Linked DNA regions of Homo sapiens. The protein of the gene in region 4 purifies or fractionates together with the protein of the main gene of each other region. This does not show direct contact. Each region holds a gene or a part of one and is shown on either strand. Other genes may lie near its edges.

Region 1 (3,500 bases), about 62 Mb from region 4:
CCTGATGCAGACAGGCCTCCCTACCAGCCAAGGAGCACGCGGGCTCGGTCCACTCGGGGGGCCCTGAGCATGGTCTGTGCTGGGGTCTCCATGGCACCATGCTGGGCAAAGGCACTGAAGCCAGGGAAGGGGAGAGCCACGAGAGTGCCGTGGCACCCAGGAGGGCCTGCAGGCTCAGGGACCTGGATCTCTGCACCCAAAGGGAACTCGGGCTGAGGAGGCCCTGGAGGAGCCCGGCCACACCTCGGCTGCAGTCCCCCCTTCTCCAAGGGTCTCGTGCAAATCTGAGCCAAAAGCGATGTCCATGCTGTAGACGTGAGACCAAATCCACTCCCAGTCTCTCGTCTTTGCTCAAAAGATGCAGAGAATAATCCATCCACAAAAACCAATTCTGGGCAGCAGTTCCTGGAACATACTTTGACTAAACCATCTTCCCTTGGTCTTTCTGCCATGATGATATTTTTTTAAAAGTATCCTTTAACCTCCTTTAATCCTTTCCATTGTATTATGTTCACCTAAGCTTGTTTAAATCCCTTTTTCTATTTTCAACTGGAGGCCAGAGCATGAATGCCGCAGTCCTCCGAAGAGGCAGTTAGGGCACAGCTGCCTTCCCCGCGCTCCTCCTCCCTCCAAGAGTCTTCTGGATAATCCAGGGGTGACGGGTGGCTCCAGGCATGAGCGGCTCCCTGACTGCTGCTCCCTCATACTGCCTTCCCTCTCACAGCTTAGGTTTCCCAAGCAGCAGCCCCTCCAGGCAGCGGACACGCCCTACCCTGCCCCCAGTCCTCCTGGGCTTGAGCCCACTTGTGGGGAGTAAAGACCCCTCATCTTCATCCTACTGTCTGGACAGGACTCCCCTCTTCATCCAGGAAAGAAGGCGGGTCTCTAAGACCACAGAGACAAAAGCCCACAGGATGGGGCAGAGCCATTCACGCGGGGCCTCCTCTCCCCGCAGCCACCCAGGGACATTCTCCTCTTGGTTAGCACAGCCTCCTGCCCCTGCTGCCTGTGTTTAACCTGCAGAGTCCGAGGCCAGCGCTCACAGTCTTCCCAGGACACCAGCGCCGCCTGCCTTCTTTCCGTCCCCCTTCCTCTCTTATCACTACGAAGTATGCAGCCTCCCTCACAGGGGCTCTGCCATCAGCTGGGCCTCCCCATGGGGGCTCCGCCATCAGCTCGGCCTCCCTCGCGGGGGCTCTGCCATCAGCTCCTCAACTTTCCTCATCTTGCTCTCAATGCCGTTGCTCTCTCCGCCTCTGGCGGATGAAGGGACAGAAGCGAGGTTGGCACAGATGCCGGCGTTGGCTGCTGCCTGGAGCTGAGGGCGCCCATGACCCCGGCCCTGCTCTCCTGATGCCCCTTTCCCACACCCAGGCGGTGTCTACACTTGGCACCCACGTGGTCCCTCTCCAGCACCCCTCCTGAGGAAGGCAGACCCTCTCCTTGCCACCTGCCTGTGGGCCCTCACCCCCTCACCTTCCCCACCAGGACCCGCCAGATTGAGCCAGCTCGAGGCACCAGAGCAGAATGAGTCCAGAAGGAAGTGGCACCTGGGGCTAGCATGAGCCAGAGGAGCTGGCCCCACCTTGGCCATCGTGGAGCTGCTCTTCTCCAGGGGAGGAGGCCGGTGGGTCTCCCCGGCCCCTACCATCTCACGCAGCCTCTGGACTCGCTGTGCGGTCATGCAACCTCTCTGTCCCTGCCGGGCTGCTCAGCCTCTCTGGACACATGCTGTGCTCCAGACGGGATGGCAGGGAGGCAGGGCAGGGACCGCCCGGTGCGTCCTGTGACACCAGGCAACGTTGGTCCCCACTCCCACGCACACCAAGGCCTCTTTCAGGTCAGCACAGAGTAGCTGGGGAGCAGGCGTGGTTCTTTTCCCTGGTGATCTTCACAATACAGTGCTGCAGACAGCCGGGGCTCAGCACACGGGGCCTTGAGAGTCCCTGGATCCTCCACTGTGCTCAGGGGAAACACCTCTCATCTATGAGCCTCCACCGTGCTCAGGGGAAACAACCTCTCGTTCTTGAGCCTCCACCGTGCTCAGGGGAAACACGTCTCATCTGTGAGTCTCCACCGTGCTCAGGGGAAACACCTCTCGTTCTTGCACCTCCACCATCCTCAGTGGAAACACCTCTCATCCTTGCGCCTCCACCGTGCTCAGGGGAAATACCTCTCGCCTGTGAGCCTCCACCATGCTCAGGGGAAACACCTCTCGTCCTTGAGCCTCCACCATGCTCAGGGGAAACACCTCTCGTTCTTGAGCCTCCACCGTGCTCAGGGGAAACACCTCTCGTCTATGAGCCTCCACCGTGCTCAGGGGAAACACGTCTCATCTGTGAGCCTCCACCGTGCTCAGGGGAAACACCTCTCGTTCTTGCACCTCCACCATCCTCAGTGGAAACACCTCTCATCCTTGCGCCTCCACCGTGCTCAGGGGAAAGACCTCTCGCCTGTGAGCCTCCACCATGCTCAGTGGAAACACCTCTCATCTGTAAGCCTCCACCGTGCTCAGGGAAACATCTCTCTTCCTTGCATCTCCACCGTGCTCAGGGGAAACACCTCTCGTCTATGAGCCTCCACCGTGCTCAGGGAAACACCTCTCATCTGTGAGCCTCGACCATGCTCAGGGGAAACACCTCTCGCCCATCTGCGCTGGGTGCCCACTGCCCTTCCGTGGCCCCACCCTTGTGCTGGATGAGCCTCAGCCTGGGTGGAGAGAAGGCAGCCCAGCCCAGGACAGCGTGGTCAGGAGGCCTCAGCCAGCGTGGCCCCGCAAGTGCCCCCGGGGGGCCTCCAGGGACTTACTCTATGCGGATGAGCTTGTCCAGGGACGGCTGCACCACAGCCCCAGAGCCAGACAGGAGGCCGGGGCACGCAGGCACCAAGCGCCACCACATCAGGACAGGGACGCGGCCCCAAGAGGACCCTCCACCCTTTCAACACGATGACCCCTGCCCACAGACCCCTCCCTTCCAAATTCCCCCAAGCCTGGCCCGTGCCGGCCATCCCCTCTGTGCCCCTCACCAATAATTCCGGCTTCCCACGCAGTTGTTGATCCATTTGCAGTGGTGGTCGAAGCCGGACACACACTTATTGCAGGAAATGCAGTGTTTGGTTTTCTTGTTCCTGGAGGGATGAATCGGGGAACGCCTGTCAGGCCCCAAGTGCGCAGGTTGGGGCAGGGCCAGAGGTCCATCACTGGAAGCCAGGTGCCTCGGAGGAACCAGCCCTGTGCGGCCTGGGGAGAGGGCGTCCAGCAGGGAATGGGAGGCTGGGGGAGGGTGTTGAGGCCTGTGGGGAGGAGGAGAAGCAGGGCAGCTGTGGGCAGAGGTAGCCACAGAGCAGGAGGAGCTGTGTCTTTGGCCGCCCTGAGCATAGACCCCCCGCCAGCCGTCCTACACCAGCCTCACTCTGGGCCATGGCCCTGGAGGAGGCCGCGCCTGCCCCATGGTTCCAGGAGTTGAGGCCGGGGGCTTGGATCCCACCTGTGCCTACAG
Region 2 (3,500 bases), on a different chromosome or scaffold from region 4:
CTCTTTTTCTTCTGTCAGAGGACCATTCTTAGTGGCACTGGGGAAATCTTGGCACCCAGAAGAATTCAACTGCGCTCACTGCAAAAATACAATGGCCTACATTGGATTTGTAGAGGAGAAAGGAGCCCTGTATTGTGAGCTGTGCTATGAGAAATTCTTTGCCCCTGAATGTGGTCGATGCCAAAGGAAGATCCTTGGAGTAAGTATTGGAAACGTTTTTATTCTGAATGAGTTTTAAAGTAGAATAATTTTTTGATATGAAAGTCTTCTATCACTTTAACTTTTTATTTTCTTCTTGCTTTATGCCCTCTCTGCTTTCGGCACTATTTATTATTGTAAAGCAAAACTAAATAGACCTCTGTGGAAATATATCGGACTCATGGGGTTAGGTTGTCTTTGGTTTTGTCTCACTGAGTGCTGGCTTGTCTGGTGAAAGTCTAGCCACTGTGGGGAAAAAATAATTTACTGTGGGTGTGCTTCCTCAACAGGAGCCTGTTTGCTCAGGAATGAAGAGGTCGCATAGGACCACACACATCTGAGTTCTTAGAACTGACACCTTCACTGTTTTAAATTAAATTCCATAGCTTTTATAAGAGCAGTATTTCCCTACTTGTCAGAGTTCAAGCACAGGACACTGATTTCATGAAATATATAAAACATGAGGTTTATAAATGATATATTTTTCTTGAATACATACAGTGTTTAAAAATATAACCTCAGTTTTATGAGAGTGCACATGTGATGGAAAAATAATTTTTTTTCCTTTTTTGCAAAAAAAGGAGTAATTTAGGAATCAGATACAGTACATAATAAATAATGAATACATGAATTTCTTGCTCTGGAATACCTAGTTTCCAATGATAAAGTAAGGGTCAGGCATACTTTATGGTGACTAGGAGCTGGAATCTGATTTCAGAAGAAGCCAGAGTACCTGGCTTCACACAAAAATTGGACATGGCCCTGCTGAACTCTAATATACTCTCAATGTGAAAATATGATAATGAAACTCTAATTATTGTTAATTGAGAGAATAGGTAGTATGAATTATTGAGTAGTCTTAAGATATCTCTTAGGATATCCTTAAATATGTCTGAAACGTTGAAGACACTTAAAATTATATATATGTCACCTGAAATATTTCTAGATTATTGATTTGTGTAATATGTTGGGAACAAAGAAGTGGAATGGTTCAGACTGTACCTTCCCAAATGATAACAAATAATTAATAGAATATTCATTAATACTGTTTTAGTGTATCAAGGTATTCTATAAATGTTAGAATAACAAAACAAAGTGAAGTTAGAGTCTTAGACCCAAATAAAGTTCTGGGAAATGGAAATCTCATACTCATTGCCTTGGAGATGGGCCAGAACTTCAATAGCTTGTCTAGATTGTATTTTAGTTATTTGATTACCTGTTAAAGATTTCTCTCAAGGATGGAAAGGGAAGAATATTCTGGAAGCCTTGGGAGATAGTTTGATTCAATATACATCTTCTACAAATGTTCATGGTGAATTTTTTGGATCTAAATGTCTGTTTCTTCCCATTGTCCTTCAGTAGTGAACTGTGACAATTTCTATGGCTAATAAGTCTATATTATTTCATTTTATTTTGATATTTTTTATAAAAGAAAATAGTTCACTCAAGCACAATTAGAAAACACAAAAAATTTAAAGAATAAATTTAAATGACCTAAATATTTACCAATCACAGATAATTACTGTTAACCTTATGATGTGTTTTTTTCTAGTTTGCTCTTTATAAGTAATGTGTTTACAAAATTGTAATCATGCTTTATGTATATGATTTTTTGTGATAAATATTATAGAAAGAGTATTCACTACTCATCCAAAATTATTTTAATGGCTCCATCTTTCTCTCAATCCAAAGAAATGATTTCTTGTAAAACCAACACCCAAAACCTCTTTTACTAACTAATATCTGGCCCAAATCTTTATAACTTGGTATGTTTAACCATTGGGCCATTGCTGACTAGAATATGGTCCAAATTTTACACATTCGAGTCTGTGCTTAGTGCCATCTTAGCTGATTTCCAAAAGCCTAAACACGTGTTAAACTGATTGGATTACATTATATTTTTATTATATTTTATTACATTATATACATTTATATACATTATATACATGTAATATATACAACTATATATAATTATGTATATTTTATTATTTTTATTTATTTATTTATTTTTTTGAGACGGAGTCTTGCTGTGTCACCCAGGCTGGAGTGCAGTGGCGCGATATCGGCTCATTGCAAGTTCCACCTCACGAGTTTATGCCATTCTCCTGCCTCAGCCTCCCAAGTAGCTGGGACTACAGGCACCCACCACCACGCCCAGCTAATTTTTTGTATTTTCAGTAGAGACGGGGTTTCACCGTGTTAGCCAGGATGGTCTCGATCTCCTGAACTCGTGATCCGCCCGCCTCGGCCTCCCAAAGTGCTGGGATTACAGGTGTGAGCCACTGCGCCCGGCCCCATTATGTTTTGTTATTAAATTATATATATTATATTATTGCTTCTAAAATGCACCAAAGTATAGGTTTGTTTTAATTTTTAAATGCTTCCTCCTTCCCCCAGAACTTTTGCAGATAATACCATAAAACCTTGGTAAGTTAATGTTTCCTGACACCCTTTGAGAAGAAGCAGAAAGTTTTGTAGCAAGCATTTATGAAATGCTTACTTTATTCACTGTACATATAATGTATAAATAACATAGTGATCATTCTTTAAGTTTATTGATTGGCATTTGTAAAGAACACACGTCTAAATATGCATCCGTTTAGATGATTTGTGAGTCTGTTCTTAAGTATCTCTTGTTACTTTGAGGGAAAGCTCAAGACAAAAATGAAGTATGTGTGCCTACTTTGGATTAGCTCTACAGGGATTTACTGGTACAGATATTAGAATAAACATTTATGTATTTATTGTCATCTTCTTTTTTTACATCCAATTACCTTTCTGTAACAGGAAGTCATCAGTGCGTTGAAACAAACTTGGCATGTTTCCTGTTTTGTGTGTGTAGCCTGTGGAAAGCCCATTCGGAACAATGTTTTTCACTTGGAGGATGGTGAACCCTACTGTGAGACTGGTAAGATCAGGGAGCCATTTGTTTCTTGAATTTTGAATAAAGGTAAAACATTAACCCTTATATTACTATAAAGCTCAAGAAAATATTAGGCAAAGTTATTTTCTTAATTGTTTTGGAAGCATTTAATGCTGCTCTAAGCATGTAGAAAAAACTATGTAGATTTTTTTTTTTCTTTTGAGACGGAGTCTCACCCTTGTTGCCCAGACTGCAGTGCAATGGCCCAATCTCGGCTCACTGCAGCCTCTGCCTCCCAGGTTCAGGCGATTCTCCTGCCTCAGCCTCCCGAATAGCTGGGAATACAGGCATGTGCCACCATGCTCGGCTCATTTTGTATTTTTAGTAGAGACAGGGTTTCGTCATGTTGGCCCGGCTGGTCTCGAACTCCCGACGTCAG
Region 3 (3,500 bases), on a different chromosome or scaffold from region 4:
CTTCACTTTCGGTCGGGGCCCCTGCCCCTGCCCCTGCTCTGCTCAGTGCCCCTGATACGTCCAACCCAGCGTCGCTGTGAGGGAGTCAACCACACCTGCCAGCACCCCCGAGTCTGGCCCCACTAGGAGGGGCCAGGGCTCCCTTGAGCAAGGCATCAGCACACAGGCAGGGAGCCGGGCACCAGACTGTGAGGGTCGCGCCCCGTGCACACGAGATCCAGGCCCGCCCCCTCCTGGACTTGGTGACCGTCCCGAGCTCGACCTGAGAGGGCACTTCGGCTCTCCTGTTCACAGTCATGACTGCCCCCTCCCCGAGGTCAGCGCCATGCACTGCTCTGGGGGCCTGAAACACCGCCTCTGTTCGCAAGGGTCTCCTGTCCCGTCCACCTGCCAGTGGGTTGAGCTCTTCCAGGGGTTCGGGACACCCCTCACGGCAGCACCTTCACGTTTACGAGAACTGTCTCTGTCTTGTTTTGTTTCAAGTTCTCAAAACGGAGTGAGGTGGAGGAAGCCTAATGGGAGGATGGGAGCCGGGTTTTCCCGGAACAGCCGTCAGCGTGTATGCGGAGGAAAAGAGATGACTGATGAATTTGTTAATTGCCAAAAGCTTGTTGCTGTAGCAACCGGAGGCCAGACTCGTGGCCCTGACAGCGTCGTTAGTGTCAGCAGAGACTGGAAATAAAGGAAACTCGTGTATGATACGCCTGGCGTCCTCAAAGCAAACAGCAGGCGGTGCCCAGCCCAACACAGGCACGGGCACAAGATCTGCAGATGAGGCATGGAGGGGAAGCGGGCGGTGCCCAGCCCAACACAGGCACGGGCACAAGATCTGCAGACGAGGTGTGCAGAGGGGAAGCAGGTGCACAGAAAAGGTGCGCGGAGATTTTTTTTTTTTAAGACAGGGTCTTGCTCTGTCGCCCAGGCTGGAGTGCAGTGTTGCGGTCATGGCCCAGGCTCACTGCAGCCTCCATTTCCTGGGCTCAGAGGATCCTTTTTCCTCAGCCTCCCAAATAGCTGGGACTCCAGGCATGCACCGACACTCCCAGCTAATTTGCAACCCCTCACTCTCATGTAGCAATTAAAAGTAAGCCTTTATTTCTCAGTAGAAAATATTCATTCCAGTTGACATAAAAATAAATTCGTTTAAAACTTGGACGGCAGGTATTAGGGCGTGCACTTCCCGCTACTCTGCCTTTTTTTTTCCCCCCCGAGACAGAGTCTCGCTCTGTCACCCAGGCTGGAGTGCAGTGGCGTGATCTCAGCTCACTGCAACTTCCGCCTCCCGGGTTCAAACAATTCTCGTGCCCCGGCTTCCCGAGTAGCTGGGACTACAGGTGCCCACCACCACACCTGGCTAATTTTTTGCTTTTTTTTTTTTTTTTTTTTTTTAATGTGGAGATGGGGTTTCACCATGTTGGTCAGGCTGGTCTTGAACTCCTGACCTCAGGTGATCCGCCTGACTTGGCCTCCCAAAGTGCTGGTATTACAGGTGTGAGCCGCCACGCCCTGCCTACTCCGCTTTTAAATGATGGGATGCATTGCTTTTTAAGAAAGGATCTCATGGATCCAGGGGTCCCAGTATGTGATGAAAGATGGCAGTTCCCATCTTACAGAGCGGGCTGGACTCAGAGGCAGGCCGGGGAGGGAGGGGCTGGGTACAGAGGGCAGGCTTGGGAGGGAGGGGCTGGGCACAGAGGACAGGCTGGGGAAGGAGGCACTGGGCGCCGAGGGCAGGTCAGGGAGGGAGGGAGGCTGGGCACACAGAGGGCAGGTCAGGGAGGGAGGGAGGCTGGGCACACAGAGGGCAGGCCAGGGAGGGAGGGGCTGGACTCAGAGGCAGGCCGGGGAGGGAGGGGCTGGGTACAGAGGGCAGGCTTGGGAGGGAGGGGCTGGGCACAGAAGACAGGCTAGGGAGGGAGGGGCTGGGCGCAGAGGACAGGCCGGGGAGGGAGGGAGGCTGGGCACACAGGGCAGGCCAGGGAAGGAGGGGCTGGGCACACAGAGGGCAGGCCAGGGAGGGAGGGGCTGGGCACAGAGGCAGGTCCAGGAGGGAAGGAGGGAGCGGGGGAGGGGCTGTCATCCTACGGCCCAGTGCCTGCCACCTGGACAGGACTTGGAGTTCTGGGGCCCTTGTGTTTCTCTCATGCGGTATTTCCTGGACCACGAACAGTTGGGTTCTCTGAACGAGCTTGTCGTGACTGATCGGCTGTGTGTGCCAGCCCACGGGGTTCTCTTGTCTTCTGTTGGTTCCATCTGATCAGCTGATTTTATTCCTTTTGTCTCTTATAAATGAACTGTGATTCTTCTAATACCAGCAAGAATGGTTTCAAGTTATTTCTGCGCTATAGTTTGTGTATATTAGCCTCGAGTGCATGTGTGTTACATGCGTGCTGTGTGTGCGTGCAGGTGTATCACATTACCGTGCTATAGTTTGTGTGTGAGCCTCGAGTGCATGTGTGTTATATGCCTGCTGTGTGTGTGTGTGGCTGTATCACACATAATGTGTCACATAGGTGTGTATGTTAGCTACATTGTATCTACGTTAGCTAAGAAAATATTCTTAGGGTACTCACATATGGTGACTGTCCCTAGTTTCTCTCAGTGACTTTTCGGGATTGTAACTGAAGGCTAGTATGGCTCAGTTGCCCCTAATCAGGGTAAAATCAAAACAGGCTGTGCACATTTAACCAGGCTTCCACCTCTAAGGTTGTAGCTGAGGTTCCTTGGCGCAGTGGGACGTCCCAGCACGGCACCAGGAGGGAGGGTGTCTGGCAGGACATCAGGTGGTTGGAATTTCAGGGCTCTGGGGATCTCCTGGGTGTGCCCCGATCAAGTCGGCTCACGTCACAGAAACCAGGTGCACCTGCAGCGGCTCCTAAGGAAAACCTAGTGGCACTGGCTGGTTATGCAGAGGCTCGTAAGGAAAGCCTAGTGGCACCGGCTGGTTATGCAGAGGCTCCTAAGGAAAGCCTAGTGGCACCGGCTGGTTATGCAGAGGCTCCTAAGGAAAGCCTAGTGGCACCGGCTGGTTATGCAGAGGCTCCTAAGGAAAGCCTAGTGGCACCCGCTGGTTATGCAGAGGCTCGTAAGGAAAGCCTAGTGGCACCGGCTGGTTATGCAGAGGCTCGTAAGGAAAGCCTAGTGGCACCCGCTGGTTATGCAGAGGCTCCTAAGGAAAGCCTAGTGGCACCGGCTGGTTATGCAGAGGCTCGTAAGGAAAGCCTAGTGGCACCGGCTGGTTATGCAGAGGCTCCTAAGGAAAGCCTAGTGGCACCGGCTGGTTATGCAGAGGCTCGTAAGGAAAGCCTAGTGGCACCGGCTGGTTATGCAGAGGCTCGTAAGGAAAGCCTAGTGGCACCGGCTGGTTATGCAGAGGCTCGTAAGGAAAGCCTAGTGGCACCGGCTGGTTATGCAGAGGCTCCTAAGGAAAGCCTAGTGGCACCCGCTGGTTATGCAGAGGCTCCTAAGGAAAGCCTAGTGGCACCGGCTGGTTATGCAGA
Region 4 (3,500 bases):
ATAAAACTAGTTTTTTAAAAAATTTATATTTAAACACAATTTGTTAGTTTCCCAATTCAATTAAGTATAACACATTTCATGGTGTCAAAAATGGACACAAGTACAAAGGGAAAGTCTAAGTTTTATGATTATCATTAGAGAACACAGGATTAAAAACCATTATAGCATATTTGAAAAATGTTATGACAAGCAATATTCTAGAAAATATACACCACAAAATGCTAATGTGCTATATACCACAAAATTATTTTTTTTGAGACAAGGTCTTGCTTTGTCACCCAGGCTGGAGTACAGTGGAGTGAGGTTTTCTCAGTTCACTGCAGCCTCATCCTCCTGCGCTCAAATGATCCTCCAACCTCAGCCTTCTGAATAGCTAGGACTACAGGTACTAACCACCAGGCCCAGCTAATTTTCCTAATTTTTGTAGCGACAGGTTTTTGCCATGTTGTCCAGGCTGGTCTGGGACTCCTGGGCTCAAGTGATCTGCCCACCTCAGCCTCCCAAAGTGCTGGAATTACAGGCGTGAGTCACCATGCCTGGCCAACACTCATTCTGACAACATGCTCTTCTCTAGGATACACCACTACACCTGGCATTTTTACAAGGCTTTTATTTACTCATATCCCTATAGGTGAAAATCTCAGGTTCTGTCCTTAAGATCCTCTTTTCTTTTCCCAAGGCTCCTTACATACATGCACTCCGAAAGTATATCTCTATCTCCTACCACTTCTAATGAGGTAACTGTTTCCTTGTCATTAAGGCTCAAAAGTTTAGGATCATCTTTGATCACTTTTCCTTGCCTAGCACATTCAATCGGTTGCTAAAAGTCAATCAAGTAACAATAGTTACTGAATATGCCCAGCACTGGGAATAAAATATAAACAAAACAGACGTGATCAATGCCCCTAGGACTTACAGTCTAGCAGAAAAGACAGAAATCATAAATCAATGTTAGTTAATAGGCAGATAATTAGTTACTTGTGTACAAAGTGTAATGACCAAGTGTCAAAAATTTACATCATCATTTTCTCTCAAATCCATAATCAATTATTTCCATTCCCACTGCCACCATTCTAAGAGAGGCTAACACTATTTTAACCTTTTCTCACTATTTCTCACAACACGCTCCAGATAGACTTTCTGCAAGCAGTATGACTACTGTTTTGCTTTTGCTTCTATTGTATTTACTACAGGAAAATTTATCATCGTCCAAACTATAATTCAAGGCCTATCTCAAATGCCACCCCCTTGGAAGATAATAAGTTTTAAAATTGTTTTTCTCAAATTCATATTTATTATATGACCCAGGAAACAGTACAGTATGCATTGTAGGCACTCAGACTATTTCTTAACTAAACGTTAAAGAGATTAACTCAAAGTTAATCACAAAATATGCCTTACCTTGAAGTGTTTGCATCATTTCTAGAAGTACAGGAGTAAGAGTCTGATTATATTCATGGAATATATCTATAAATAATACTTCAGTGCATGGCTGGAGAGGGAAAAATACAAATTTCTCATCAAAACAGTTGCATACTATATTGACTAATTCTTTAATAAAGCAAATACTTAATCTTAAAATTCTAAAACTTTGAAAATGTTTCCAACTTTTGATTTGTTAAAAAAAAAAAGTAAGGTTACCATTTTTTTATAACCAACACAAAGGAAAACAAAATCGAATTATAATTAATAAAAGAAAGTTGATTTCATTTCAATTATTTGTCATTACGCATTCAAAAACTTAAAACTATGGCAAGCAAAGTGTACATTTTAAATTAATCATACCTTAAATTTAAAAAGCATTCTGTAGCCACTCATTTATAGCTCAGTACTATAAATGGCTGACTACCCAAGATTCTTTTTTTTTTGAGACACAGTCTCACTCTGTCACCAGGCTGGAGTGCAGTGGTGTGATTTCGGCTCACTGCAACCTCCACCTCCCAGGTTCAAGCGATTCCCCTGCTTCAGCCTCCCGAGTAGCTATTATGTATTTTCTTAGCAATGATATAATAAGCAAAAACAGGAACTCCAATTTGCCAAATAAAGTAGCCTTTCTCTTAACAAACACAAGCGGTAACAGAAATTAGCATTAGCTACATTTAAAAAAATGATTTGTTTGGTTCTTAAAAGTACTGAATCATTTCACATTGCATGCTGGTATCAAAACATCTCATGTACCCCATAAATATGTACACCTACTATGTACCCACAAAAAATTTTTTAAAATAATTTTTTATTTAAATTTTAAAAAGGAATTTAATCACTAGATCGTTCACAATATTTAAATTTTTTAATTAAATTTTTAAGGTATTGTGTGGTGTTTTAAAAGGAACATTATAAATATACACACTGAAATATGGTCAGAGGATGTGTCATCTCAGATAACCATCAACACTGGGAGATGTTTACAGGAAGCTAAAGTAGCCATGAGTTGATAACTAATAAACTAGCTTATCATGAAGGGCTCATTATATTATTCTATTTTTTAATATGTTTAAACTTCTCCATAAAAGAAACTTTTAAAAATTAAAGGAATGAAATTTTTTAAAGTTTTAAAATCACCAGTAATCTCTCTGGTTAACAACTGTATGTTTATGAATCTAAAAACATTAAAGATAACATTTTTAGAAGACAAATAGCTAATTATGTAAATTATGTAAGTGCAAATCTTAAAAAGAAGAGCTCAAACATCACATCTGGTAACGGCAAAACATTTGTCATATTAATAAATGCGTTGTAAAAGTATCCTATAACTGAAAGCAATGGGCTAGTCTCTGAGAATCACATGAAGTGGTAAGAGAAATAACATACCAAAAGAAACTTTACTAATGAAATATATAGAAGGAAAAAATTCTAGCTTAAGAATGGCAGCTTTCAGTTTGACAAACATTTTCTATTTGTGTAATGACAATTATTTCCCAAGCAATGTACTAAAAGATGAAGAAAAAATTTGTTTTCCGACCCCAAGTTAAACAAAAGAAAAGGCCAGGCACAGTGGCTCACGCCTGTAATCCCAGCACTTAGGGAGGCCGAGGCGGGTGGCTCACGAGGTCAGGAGATCGAGACCAACCTGGCTAACAAGATGAAACCCCGTCTCTACTAAATAAACAAAAAATTAGCTGGGCGTGGTGGCGGGCGCCTGTATTCCCAGCTACTCGGGAGGCTGAGGCAGGAGAATGGCATGAACCCAGGGGGCGGAGCTTGCAGTGAGCCGAGATGCACCAGTGCACTCCAGCCTGGGCAACAGAGTGAGATTCTGTCTCAAAAAAAAAAAAAAAGAAAAAGAAAAAAGAAAAAAAACTCAGATTAAACGTCATAATTTAATATGAATATAGTTCTTAGTTTCTTATAAACAGTTTCTTATCTGTCTGACTTAATGTTGGGAATCTTTAATTTTTTTTTTTTTTTTTTTAAGAGACGGGTTTTGCTTTGTAATCCAGGCTAGAACGCAGTGGCATCATCATGGCACACGGCAGCCTCAACCTCCTGGGCTCAAACAA
Region 5 (3,500 bases), on a different chromosome or scaffold from region 4:
CGATGATAAATAAAACAGTATATTGTTTGTACTTGGAATTTCTGATTAAATGTGTCACAACTGTTGTCTTATATTAGAATTGGTTATTTCTACCTTGTTGCTGACAGTTATTTTCAATATGTTTACAATTTGGAGGTAAAAAAATGCTTTTGCCAAGTAAAATTTATTAGAGAAGAAAATCCTTTCAGCATGAAAATATATAATGATACCAAAAATTGATTGATCATCTTATTTTCATGTACTTCATTACTTAATTGCTCATAAAGATATAATTTACTGTATAATTAGAATAAAGTATTCTTTTTTTACTGTAATAAAGGGCAGATGATCTTGTGTTGCTCTTTTAGTGAGTTTTATTCATATTGAGATTTCATTTTACAAAAGTCATGTCAGTTTTTTTACACTTGTTTTAAACTGGCAGCAGCTTAGTTAAAAATAGCTGTTTCCAGTGAACATGAAGCTCCTACAAAATCTGTATTTTTAAAAATTCACTCTATCATGCATATGATGTGGACACATTTTGCTTTACAATATGTAAAAGTCTATTATAAAGTAAAATATATTAGGTCATTTTATGAGTTTGCTGGAGCTGCTGTAACAAAGTACTACAAACTGAGTCGTTTCAACGACAGAAATACATTGTTTCCCACTTCTTGAGACAAGCACACTTGAAGTCTGAGACCAAGGTGCCAGTAGGGCCACGAGCTCTCTGAAGGTATGAGACAGGATCTATTCGAGGCTGCCTTCTTAGCTCTTGTGCTTTGTTGGGAATCTTTGGGCTTCCTTGGCTTGTAGATACATCACCTTGGTCTCTGCCTTCATGCTCACATGACATTCTCCCTGTGTGTGTCTCAGTGTCCAAATTTCCCCATTTTGTAAGGACCCCAGTCATATAGGATTGGGCAAGCCCATCCTACTCCAGTATGATTTTATCTTAAATAATTACCATCTGTAATGCCCCTATTTCCAAATAAAGTTGCATTCTGAGCTATTGTAATTAGGACTTTAATATGAATTTTGGGAGGGGCACAGTTCAATCCATAACAGTCGTTATTTGCATAAAAGGATTAACCACAGTATTCTATATTTGATTCAACATCTAAGAGGACAGTTCAGCCTATAAATAACATATAACTTTCTATTGCATCAAAAAGATATACTTTCTCCTTTTTTAATGAGTTGGTTAGTATATTGCTAAGTTCTGAATGTGTCCCTCTAAAATACGTATGTTGAAGCTTGACTGCCAATGTGACAGTATTAAGAAATGGGGCCTTTAGGAGGTGACTAAGTCATGAGGGCACTCATGATTAAGTCATGAATGGGATTAGTGCTCTCTTAAAAGAAGTTGAAGGGGTCACCCTGTCCCCTTCCACCGTGTGAGGGTTTAGCAACAAGGCACCATCTTTGAAGCAAAGGGTGGGCCCTAGCCAGGCACAAATCTGTTAGTGCCTTCATCTTGGACTGCTAGCCTCCCAAACTGTGAGAAATAAATTCTATTATTTATAAATTACCCCGTCTAAGATATTTTGTTAGTAGCCTGAACAGACTAAGTCAGAAATATACCTATTATAAATTGTGTTTTCTGATTTTTTTAAATGATAAAATTAATTTGGGTAGGCTGGGTTTTATGATACAGTCTGGTATATGTTTATTTGTCACACTCAGATTCCTTAACTGGGAAAATTTCATCATGTTTGTGTTCTGTGTCTTTTTGTTTTACCTAATTTCCTCTTTCAGAATGCTGTATTTTATATGGATGCTTTGCTCAGGAGACCATTACATAAGTCTTTTCATGCATTTGTTGATTTGGTGAGATGTTAAACTTACTAAGTATTGGATTAAATATCTAATTAGTTATGACTTTATCTCAGTGAGATTTTCAGTTTCTTAATTGCCTCTAAGCAGTCAACTCTCTGCTGCCTTTAAAATCTTGGCTGTGGCTTGTTGCTTGACCCAGGATTTCTACACCTGTACCCTTTCACATTCTTAGCCAGTAGTCTCTAATAGGCTGCAAGGGGCCTATATATTTTATAAAATTATAAGTAACATTTTATACATGCATTTTTCTGAGGGAGAATGCCCTTAGCCTGTTACCAGATTCTTAAATAAATTCCTAATTGCTGCCCCTTCCTCCCCTCGAAAAGTAAAAATAGGGTGGGGCGTGGTGGCTCACTCCTGTAATCCCAACACTTTGGGAGGCCAAGGCGGGCGGATCACTTGAGGTCAGGAGTTCAAAACCGGCTTTGCCAGTGCAGTGAAACCTCGTCTCTACTAAAAATACAAAAAGATTAGCTGGGCGAGGTGGCAGGTGCCTGTAATCCCACCTACCCAGGAGGCTGAGGCAGGAGAATTGCCTGAACCCAGGAGGCCGAGGTTGCAGTGAGTCAAGATGGTGCCACTGCACTCCAGCCTGGGCAACAGAGTGAGATTCTGTTTCAAATAAATAAATAAATAAATTCATCATGTCATCAGGAGAAAGTGGATGTTTCTTACAATAATCACTCCAACAGTTCTGTTACTGGGCTTTAGGATGCCTGATCAAAATGCAGCCTTCTCTGCATTAATTTAGCAGCAATCAAATGTAAAAAACCTTTCCAGAGGTGTCAGGATTGAATGAGGTAATGCTTGTGAGAGTGCCATGCTTGCATAATAAGGATCACTTGAACCATGTAAAACAAAATGTTGTTAATGCGCTTGAAGTCAACGATACGGGCCTGTGGGGTATATGAAAAGAAAGTGGTGACTGAAAATGATTTCTCTGTAGACTGAGAGTCCTCGTGATTGAAGTTTGTGTTGTTGAAACAGCTATATTTTTGCAAGCTTTTTTCCCCATAGTGATTCTTTAATATTTTAAATTGAGTTTATATGAATTTTGGTTTCAGTCTACTTAGAAAATTTTAAAGTAACCTGCAAATTAATTAGAAGTACCCTAGAAAATGGCAAGACTTGGTTGGGGCAAATGGTGACTGTTTTGAGACAGATGTCATTGTGGAAGGGAGAGGTTTAATATTCAGGGGAAGGGAGCTGAAGCTTGCAGAGCAGATTCCATTCTGCCAAGCCTCTTGTGCTGCATACAGAGTCTCAGGGCATCAAGCAACCCGAGGGCTTTCTTCAGAGGAGTAGCTTGAGGCAGCGGCGAGAGAAGGGCAGGACACACTGACAAATGAATAATGAGAATTAGGTGAGGAGATGGAGTTTAAGAACTGCTTCAAACTTTAAGGTGGATACCTGATGGGGCTTTCTAGAGATGAGCAATTCTTCTCAATTTAAGGCCAGATAGGGGAGATGCTAAGTAGGTAAGAAGTCAGTGGATTTTTTGGCCTCCTTTTTTCTCTTTTTGTTCTTTTAATCCTTCGTACCCTTGTCCTGTGTTCTTTTAGGTAATGTTCAGTGAGGTGTAGCCACAAGAGGGGACATAGGAGAGGCTCAAGAAAACAGAGTTTATTATACTCACATGTCTTAGAATGACAATCACTGTACAGGAGGATAGGAGGGGGGAC
Region 6 (3,500 bases), on a different chromosome or scaffold from region 4:
GCTCATGTAATCCTCCTACCTCAGCCTCCCAGGGTAGCTGGGACTACAGGCACTTGCCACCATGCTGGGCTAATTTTTTTTTTTTTCTGTCACCCGGGCTGGAGTGCAGTGGCATGATCATGACTCACTGCAGCCTCAGCCTGCTGGGCTCAAGCGATCCTCCTGCCTCTGCCTCAGCCTCCCAAGTAGCTGAGACTATAAGTGTGCACTACCACGCCTGGCTAATTTTTGTATTTTTTGTTTTGCTATGTTTCCCAGGCTGGTATTGAACTCCCAAGCTCAAGCAATCTTCCTGCCTCTGCCTCCCAAAGTGCCGGGATTACAGGCATCAACTACCTTGCCCAGCCATGGACATATTTTATACCTACCACTGGCTTCTGTGGTTGAAAGGAACACATGTCAGCTTGTCAAGGAGGGAGGCCCGGTTCTTTCAAGACTAAGACTCATGTGGCTTTGCAGAGCTAGACAGGGGTTAGGACCCTCAGCAGCTGCAGTTCCTGAGTCTCCTCACTGGTGCTCCAGCATCAGTGTGACTCCAGTGCATGACCTTTTAATTCTTTATTGCAGTGATTCCCAGACTTGTAAATTATTCAGATTTCTGAGACATCCCCTCTTGACTCGGTAGTTTGGGGTGTGGCTCAGGAAGCTGCATGCTTAAAAGCACTCCAGGTGAGTCTTAGGTGGGTGAAGACGTTGCCTTTACTCTGCTTTTCCTTTCTATATTCCAGGGGTCAACAAACTTTTTCTATGAAGGGCCAGAGAGTAAATATTTTAGTATTTGTGGGACAGATAAGTCTCTGTCAACATATTTTTAAAAATCCTTTAAAATGCAAAAAGCTGGCTGGGCACAGTGGCTCACGCCTGTAATCCCAGCACTTTGGGATGCCGAGGAGCGCGGATCACCTGAGGTCAGGAGTTCAAGACCAGCCTGACCAACATGGTGAAACCCCATCTCTACTAAAAATACCAAAAATTAGCCGAGTATGGTGGCACATGCCTGTAATCTCAGCTACTAGGGAGGCTGAGGCAGAAGAATCGCTTGAACCCAGGAGGTAGAGGTTGTAGTGAGCCAAGATCGCACCACTGCACTCCAGCCTGGGTGACAGAGCAAGTCTCCATCTCAAAAAGAAAAAAGAAAGGCAAAAAGCTGCTGGCCAGGTGTGGTGGCTCATGCCTGTAATCCTAGCATTTTGGGAGGCCGATGTGGGAGAATTGCCTGAGACCAGGAGTTTGAGACCAACCCAGGCAATGTAGAGAGACCCTCATCTCTAAAAAAAAAAAAAAAAAAAAAAAAATTAAAAATGAGTCAAGTGTGGTGGCACACCCCTGTAGTCTCAGCTACTTGGGAAGCTGAGGTAGGAGGATCACTTGAGCCCAGGAGGTCAAGGCTGCAATGAGCCTTGAATGCACTACTGCACTCCAGCCTGGGCAAGAGCGTGAGACCCCGTCTCAAATAAAATAAAATAATGTGAAAGCTATTCTCAACTCCCTGGATTTGCCAACTCCTTCTCTACCCCACGGCTTCTGCTCACCCTGACTTTGGTTCACTTAGGTCTTTTCAAGGCTTCTGTCTTTCTCTACCTCAGTTTCAACTTTTCCTGCTGACTTCTTGAGTCCCTCATGAGGTCCCCAACTGACTCCCATTACCTGTCATCCAGCTAGTTCTTGTTTGGGCTTGTTGATTGAGGCTCCCTCCTGTCAGCCTGTGGAATGCTGAGAGGAGGGGTCACTGCCTTCATCAAATGGTGCCCCAGCCTGCCCCTAGCAAGAGTGGAATACATCCCGCTTCATCAGGGGCGGGGGCTGTGTGGGGACCCAGTGCCAGCTCAAAGGTCAGACCGCAACTAATTACGAAGGATGCTGGTTCCCTGGGCACTGAGTGGAGAGATGAGGCACAGGACATGGGATGCTCAAGCTGGAGGGGCTGTCAGAGCTTCCAAAGCTGAGTCCTCTTCCCCAGGGGAACTTGCCTGAGATCCTCCAGCAATCAGAGGCAGACATGGGACCAGAGCCCAGGTCTTGGACTCTTGGTGTGGAGTTCTCCTGACCAGTCCACGCTGCCTTCTTGCATTTATACACAGCTGCATTTCCACTGTGCACATCTGCCCTGTTTCCCACAATGCACCAACCTGGGCAGATGAGAAGCATCAGAAGGCATGTCACCTCTGACATTCCCACGCAGAGATTCTCCCCTAGAGTAGATGATAATAGATTCTGAAAGCAAGGCAGAACGTTCCTGGATATCTAGCCCACATGCTCACCAACAGGGGAAGGGACTAAGACCAGATCACCAGAGGGGAGTGACTGGCCCAGGCCATGTCACAGAGAGACACAGTGTGCCGGGCATCACGCTAGGCCTTTTTGTGTTGTTGTCAATGCTGTACTGTCCTCCCAGACACAGCAGCTGCTGGAAAGGCTGTCAGCTGACAGCTCTCAGCTGTTATCTCTCTTTGGGACTTGTCTCACCTGGGGAGAGCTGTTTCACCCTTCCCAGGGAAGCCAGTATGCAAACACTCACACCAGGCTAGTTGAGGTGACTCAGACCTATAATACCAGTGCTTTGGGAGGCCAGGTGGAAAGATCATCTGAGGCCAGGAGTTTGAGATCAGCTTGGGCAACATAGCAAGATCCCATCTCTACAAAAAAATTTAAACAATTGTCTGAGCATGATTGTGTGCACCTGTAGTCTCAACTGCTCAGGAGGCTGAGGTGGGAGGATTGCTTGAGCTTAGGGGTTTGAGGTCACAGTGAGCTATGATGGCACCAGTGCACTCCAGCAACAGAGCAAGACTCAGTCTCAAAAAAAAAAAAAAGAAAGAAAAAGACTCACTCTAACTTGGAACAACTGTGAAGGGTCTTCCAGCTCCAGAACTTCTTGGAGGCTGAGGCTTTGTGATAGCTGCAAAATGCCTCCCTCTGCCCCAGTCCTGCTTCCTTCTCTTCCCAAGAGCTCTCTCTAATAAACTTCCTGCATGTCAATCCCTGAGTCAGAGTGTATTTCCCAGAGGCACACTCTGTGACACAGCTGTTATGTCATTTATCCTCACCACAACTCTGAGAACTAGTAGTACTATCCTCAGTTTACAGGAGCTGAGGCTCAGAGAGGTTCGCTGAATTGCCCAATATCACACAGCACATGAGTGGTGGAGCCAGGATGCAAATCCAAATCCTACTGCCTCCAAATCTCACACTCTTTCCACTCTCTTGGACCAGTTCTCTTGACCACCCTTGTCCTTTGTTTTAGGGGCAAGTTTGACCCCCAGGACATGGACAAGAACTTGAATGCCATCCAGACAGTGTCAGGGATCCTGCAGGGCCCCTTTGACCTGGGCAACCAGCTGCTGGGACTGAAAGGTGTGATGGAGATGATGGTGGCACTATGTGGCTCAGAGCGCGAGACGGACCAGCTGGTGGCCGTGGAGGCCCTCATCCATGCCTCCACGAAGCTCAGCCGCGCCACCTTCATCATCACCAATGGAGTGTCACTGCTCAAACAGATC
Region 7 (3,500 bases), on a different chromosome or scaffold from region 4:
TGCAGCCTTGACATCCCTGGCTCAAGAGATCCTCCCTCCTCAGCCTCCTTAGTAGCTGCGATTTACAGACACATGCCACCATGCACAGCTAATTTTTTTTTTTTTTTGAGATGGAGTTTCGCTCTTGTTGCCCACGCTGCAGTGCAATGGCGCCATCTCGGTTCACCACAACTTGCACCTCCCGGGTTCAAGCAATTCTCCTGCCTCAGCCTCCCGAGTAGCTGGGACTACAGGTGTCCACCACCACACCCAGCTAAATTTTGTGTTTTTAGTAGAGACGGGGTTTCACCATGTTGGTCAGGCTGGTCTCAAACTCCTGACCTCAGGTAATTCACCTGCCTCAGCCTCCCAGAGTGCTGGGATTATAGGCGTGAGCCACTGCACCTGGCCACAGCTAATTTTTAAAATAATTTTTGTAGAGATTGAGTCACTGTGTTGCCCAGGCTGGTCTTGAACCTCTGGTCTTGTGTGATCCCTCTTCAGCCTTCCAAACTGCTGAGATTACAGGCGTGAACCACTGTGCCAGGCTGAAATTGGTCATCTTAAGATAAAGACAGTGCTGTTATTACCCATTCCCAGTTTCACAGTTTACAAGGCTGTTTGATGGTAGCAACTATTCTCCTTTTATACAAACAGCCTGGACTGGATGCCTCTTGGGCTTGTCTATGTGAATCCTTTATGATTAGTCTGATGAAGATTCTTTGGAGCAAATTTATCTTTTTCTAAGGTACATCCTTTAATGACCCTTTTATCTCAGGGAGAAAGAGAGTAATGATAATAACAGTAACAAAATAAATATTAACTACTATGTACCAGGCACTGTTAGGCATTACAATTGTTTGTGCATTCACTCATCGAACCTTTGCAACATCACTAAGAGGTAGGAGCCCCATTCCCGATTTATAGATAAGTAGGTTGAGATTTGTAGCTTTACCGAGGTCACACAATAAGTCCCAGAGTTGGAACTTGCCAGCTGGTCTCCAAAGCTGGGGTTGTTAACCAAACCAATATCTACCTGTGAGGATTGGGCTGTCTTTTGATGCAGGAAGTAGGGCTTAGAGAGGGCCAGTGTCATTCTGGGTTAACTGTCCTGTTTCGGCTTGGTCTTCTGTCCTTCAGGGAAGCTTGTGGGCTGTGCCATCATCCATGTCAATGGAGACAGCCCAGAGGAAGTGGTCCGTGCCACACGACTGGCTTTTGAATACCAACGCCAGTTCCGCAAGGATGTGATTATTGATCTGTTGTGCTACAGGCAGTGGGGCCACAATGAGCTGGATGAGCCATTCTACACCAACCCCATCATGTACAAAATCATCAGGTACAATTATAAACCCTTGTGTGATATGCCCCCTAAAAATTAAAATTACTATTATTATTCTTTTGAGATGGAGTCTTGCTTTGTCACCCAGTCTGGAATGCAGTAGCACGATCTTGGCTCACTGCCATCTCCACCTCCCGGGTTCAAATGATCCTCCTGCCTCAAGTGATCCTCTTGCCTCAACCTCCCGAGTAGCTGGGATTACAGGCGTGTGCCACCGTGCCTGGCTAGTTTTCATACTTTTTAGTAGAGATGGAGTTTTGCCATGTTGGCCAGGCTGATGTCAAACTCCTGACCTCAGGTGATCTGCCTGCCTCGCCCTCCCAAAGTGCTGGGATTACAGGCATGAGCCACCATGCCCAGGCAGGACATGAAACTTTAAGAGCTAAAGCTGACACAGTTCTGGGCTGGAGTGCAGGTGGCACAGTCTTGGCTCACTGCAACCTCTGCCTCCTGGGTTCAAGCAATTGCAATTCTTGTGCCTCAGCTTCCTGAGTAGCTGGGATTACAGGTATGCATCACCACGCCTGGCTAATCTTTGTATTTTTAGTACAGACAGGGGTTTCGCCATGTTGGCTAGGCTGGTCTCAAACTCCCGGTCTCAAGTGATCCACCTGCCTTAGCCTCCCAAAGTGCTAGGATTACAGGCATGAGCCACCGTGCCTGGCCTCCCATACTCTTCACACTTGACATGGTTCCTCATTGAATAGAAAAAGGGCAATAGAAAACTCAGCAGATGGGAAGATTGAAGCAGGGGGAATTAAGCAAACCTCGCCCAAATCTATTTACTGCAGTGTCGGCAGGACCAGAAATAGAACCTCAGTGATTCATTTCTACAAACCATAGCTGCAGACCTGCCTGGCACCTTGGTGAGAGGTAACTCAGAAGATTCTAATGAATGTTCAGAACCATGCTGTCCAAGATGGAAGCCACTAGCCATCAGTGGCTATTGAGTACTTGAAAAGTGGCCAGTCCTGATTAATGTGCTGTAAGGATAATACACACACCATATTTCAAACACTTAGCATGTAAAATATAAACCCAAAATAATATTTTTAAATTTATTAGATATGGAAATGACAATATAATGAGTATATTGACTTAAATAAAATATGTTATTGAAATGCCGGGCATGGTGGCTTATGCCTGTAATCCCAGCACTTTGGGAGGCCAAGGTGGGTGGATCACTTGAGGTCAGGAGTTTGAGACCGGCCTGGCCAACATGGTGAAACCCCATCTCTACTAAAAATAGAAAAATTTGGCCAGGCGCGGTGGCTCACGCCTGTAATCCCAGCACTTTGGGAGGCCGAGGCGGGCGGATCACGAGGTCAGGAGATCGAGACCATCCTGACTAACACGGTGAAACCGCGTCTCTACTAAAAATACAAAAAATTAGCCGGGCGTGGTGGCGGGCGCCTGTAGTCCCAGCTACTCGGGAGGCTGAGGCAGGAGAATGGCGTGAACCCGGGAGGCGGAGCTTGCAGTGAGCCCAGATCGCACCACTGCACTCCAGCCTGGGTGGCATAGCGAGACTCCGTCTCAAAAAAAAAAAAAAAAAAAAAGAAAAGAAAAGAAAAGAAAAAGAAAAATTAGCTGGCGTTGTGGCGCGTGCCTGTAGTCCCAGCTACTCGGGAGGCTGAGGCAACAGAATCGCTTGAACTGGGGAGGCGGAGGTTGCAGTGAGCTGAGATTGTGCCACTGCATTCCAGCCTGGGCGACAGAGCGAGACTCGGTCTCAAAGAAAAAACAAGAAGAAAAGAAATTAATTTCACCTGTTTCTTTTTATCTTTTCTAACGTGACTGCCAGAAAATTTTAAATTACTCATGGCTTGCATTTCATTTCTGTCCCATGGTGCTGATTCAGATGGTTAATGTGACGGAGGGGGAATTTGTTACTTTGGAACTTCCTTTTCTAGATACTAGAAAATAAAATAGATTCCCCTCCTCCAAGTTTATTTCCTTATAGATATAAATTAAAGCAGAGGAATACACGTTTTATGAGCGTTTCTGATCCTTGGTACCAGAAAGAGGACTGCTCTCAGAAGAACTAATTGTGTTCTGTTTAGCTCTGAATTTAGCAGCTGAATGACTCAGTGAACCTCAGGGTTCTATTTTATTTTATTTATTTTTTTGAGACACGGTCTTGCTCTGTCGCCCAGGCTGTAGTGCAGTGGTATGATCA

What was found.
Region 1: the proteins of IPO11 (region 4) and ZDHHC11 purify together in Homo sapiens (co-immunoprecipitation; one large-scale study listed by IntAct). This does not show direct contact.
Region 2: the proteins of IPO11 (region 4) and PDLIM5 fractionate together in Homo sapiens (co-fractionation; one large-scale study listed by BioGRID). This does not show direct contact.
Region 3: the proteins of IPO11 (region 4) and CTDP1 fractionate together in Homo sapiens (co-fractionation; one large-scale study listed by BioGRID). This does not show direct contact.
Region 5: the proteins of IPO11 (region 4) and SH3GL2 fractionate together in Homo sapiens (co-fractionation; one large-scale study listed by BioGRID). This does not show direct contact.
Region 6: the proteins of IPO11 (region 4) and UNC45B purify together in Homo sapiens (affinity purification with mass spectrometry; one large-scale study listed by BioGRID and IntAct). This does not show direct contact.
Region 7: the proteins of IPO11 (region 4) and DHTKD1 purify together in Homo sapiens (affinity purification with mass spectrometry; one large-scale study listed by BioGRID and IntAct). This does not show direct contact.

What each region holds. Positions count from the first base shown.
Region 1 is NC_000005.10:844,487-847,986, forward strand, and holds part of ZDHHC11 (palmitoyltransferase ZDHHC11), read right to left. Parts: intron 3,295-3,500; coding exon of another isoform or gene 3,130-3,294; coding exon 3,028-3,129; intron 1-3,027. UniProt on the Homo sapiens protein: Endoplasmic reticulum-localized palmitoyltransferase that could catalyze the addition of palmitate onto various protein substrates and be involved in a variety of cellular processes.
Region 2 is NC_000004.12:94,654,442-94,657,941, forward strand, and holds part of PDLIM5 (PDZ and LIM domain protein 5), read left to right. Parts: intron 1-18; coding exon 19-199; intron 200-2,985; coding exon 2,986-3,106; intron 3,107-3,500. UniProt on the Homo sapiens protein: May play an important role in the heart development by scaffolding PKC to the Z-disk region. May play a role in the regulation of cardiomyocyte expansion. Isoforms lacking the LIM domains may negatively modulate the scaffolding activity of isoform 1.
Region 3 is NC_000018.10:79,749,303-79,752,802, forward strand, and holds part of CTDP1 (RNA polymerase II subunit A C-terminal domain phosphatase), read left to right. Parts: intron 1-3,500. UniProt on the Homo sapiens protein: Processively dephosphorylates 'Ser-2' and 'Ser-5' of the heptad repeats YSPTSPS in the C-terminal domain of the largest RNA polymerase II subunit. This promotes the activity of RNA polymerase II.
Region 4 is NC_000005.10:62,485,763-62,489,262, reverse strand, and holds part of IPO11 (importin-11), read right to left. Parts: intron 1,493-3,500; coding exon 1,402-1,492; intron 1-1,401. UniProt on the Homo sapiens protein: Functions in nuclear protein import as nuclear transport receptor. Serves as receptor for nuclear localization signals (NLS) in cargo substrates.
Region 5 is NC_000009.12:17,582,066-17,585,565, forward strand, and holds part of SH3GL2 (endophilin-A1), read left to right. Parts: intron 1-3,500. UniProt on the Homo sapiens protein: Implicated in synaptic vesicle endocytosis. May recruit other proteins to membranes with high curvature. Required for BDNF-dependent dendrite outgrowth.
Region 6 is NC_000017.11:35,164,817-35,168,316, forward strand, and holds part of UNC45B (protein unc-45 homolog B), read left to right. Parts: intron 1-3,244; coding exon 3,245-3,500. UniProt on the Homo sapiens protein: Acts as a co-chaperone for HSP90 and is required for proper folding of the myosin motor domain. Plays a role in sarcomere formation during muscle cell development. Is necessary for normal early lens development.
Region 7 is NC_000010.11:12,092,954-12,096,453, forward strand, and holds part of DHTKD1 (2-oxoadipate dehydrogenase complex component E1), read left to right. Parts: intron 1-1,119; coding exon 1,120-1,318; intron 1,319-3,500. UniProt on the Homo sapiens protein: 2-oxoadipate dehydrogenase (E1a) component of the 2-oxoadipate dehydrogenase complex (OADHC). Participates in the first step, rate limiting for the overall conversion of 2-oxoadipate (alpha-ketoadipate) to glutaryl-CoA and CO(2) catalyzed by the whole OADHC.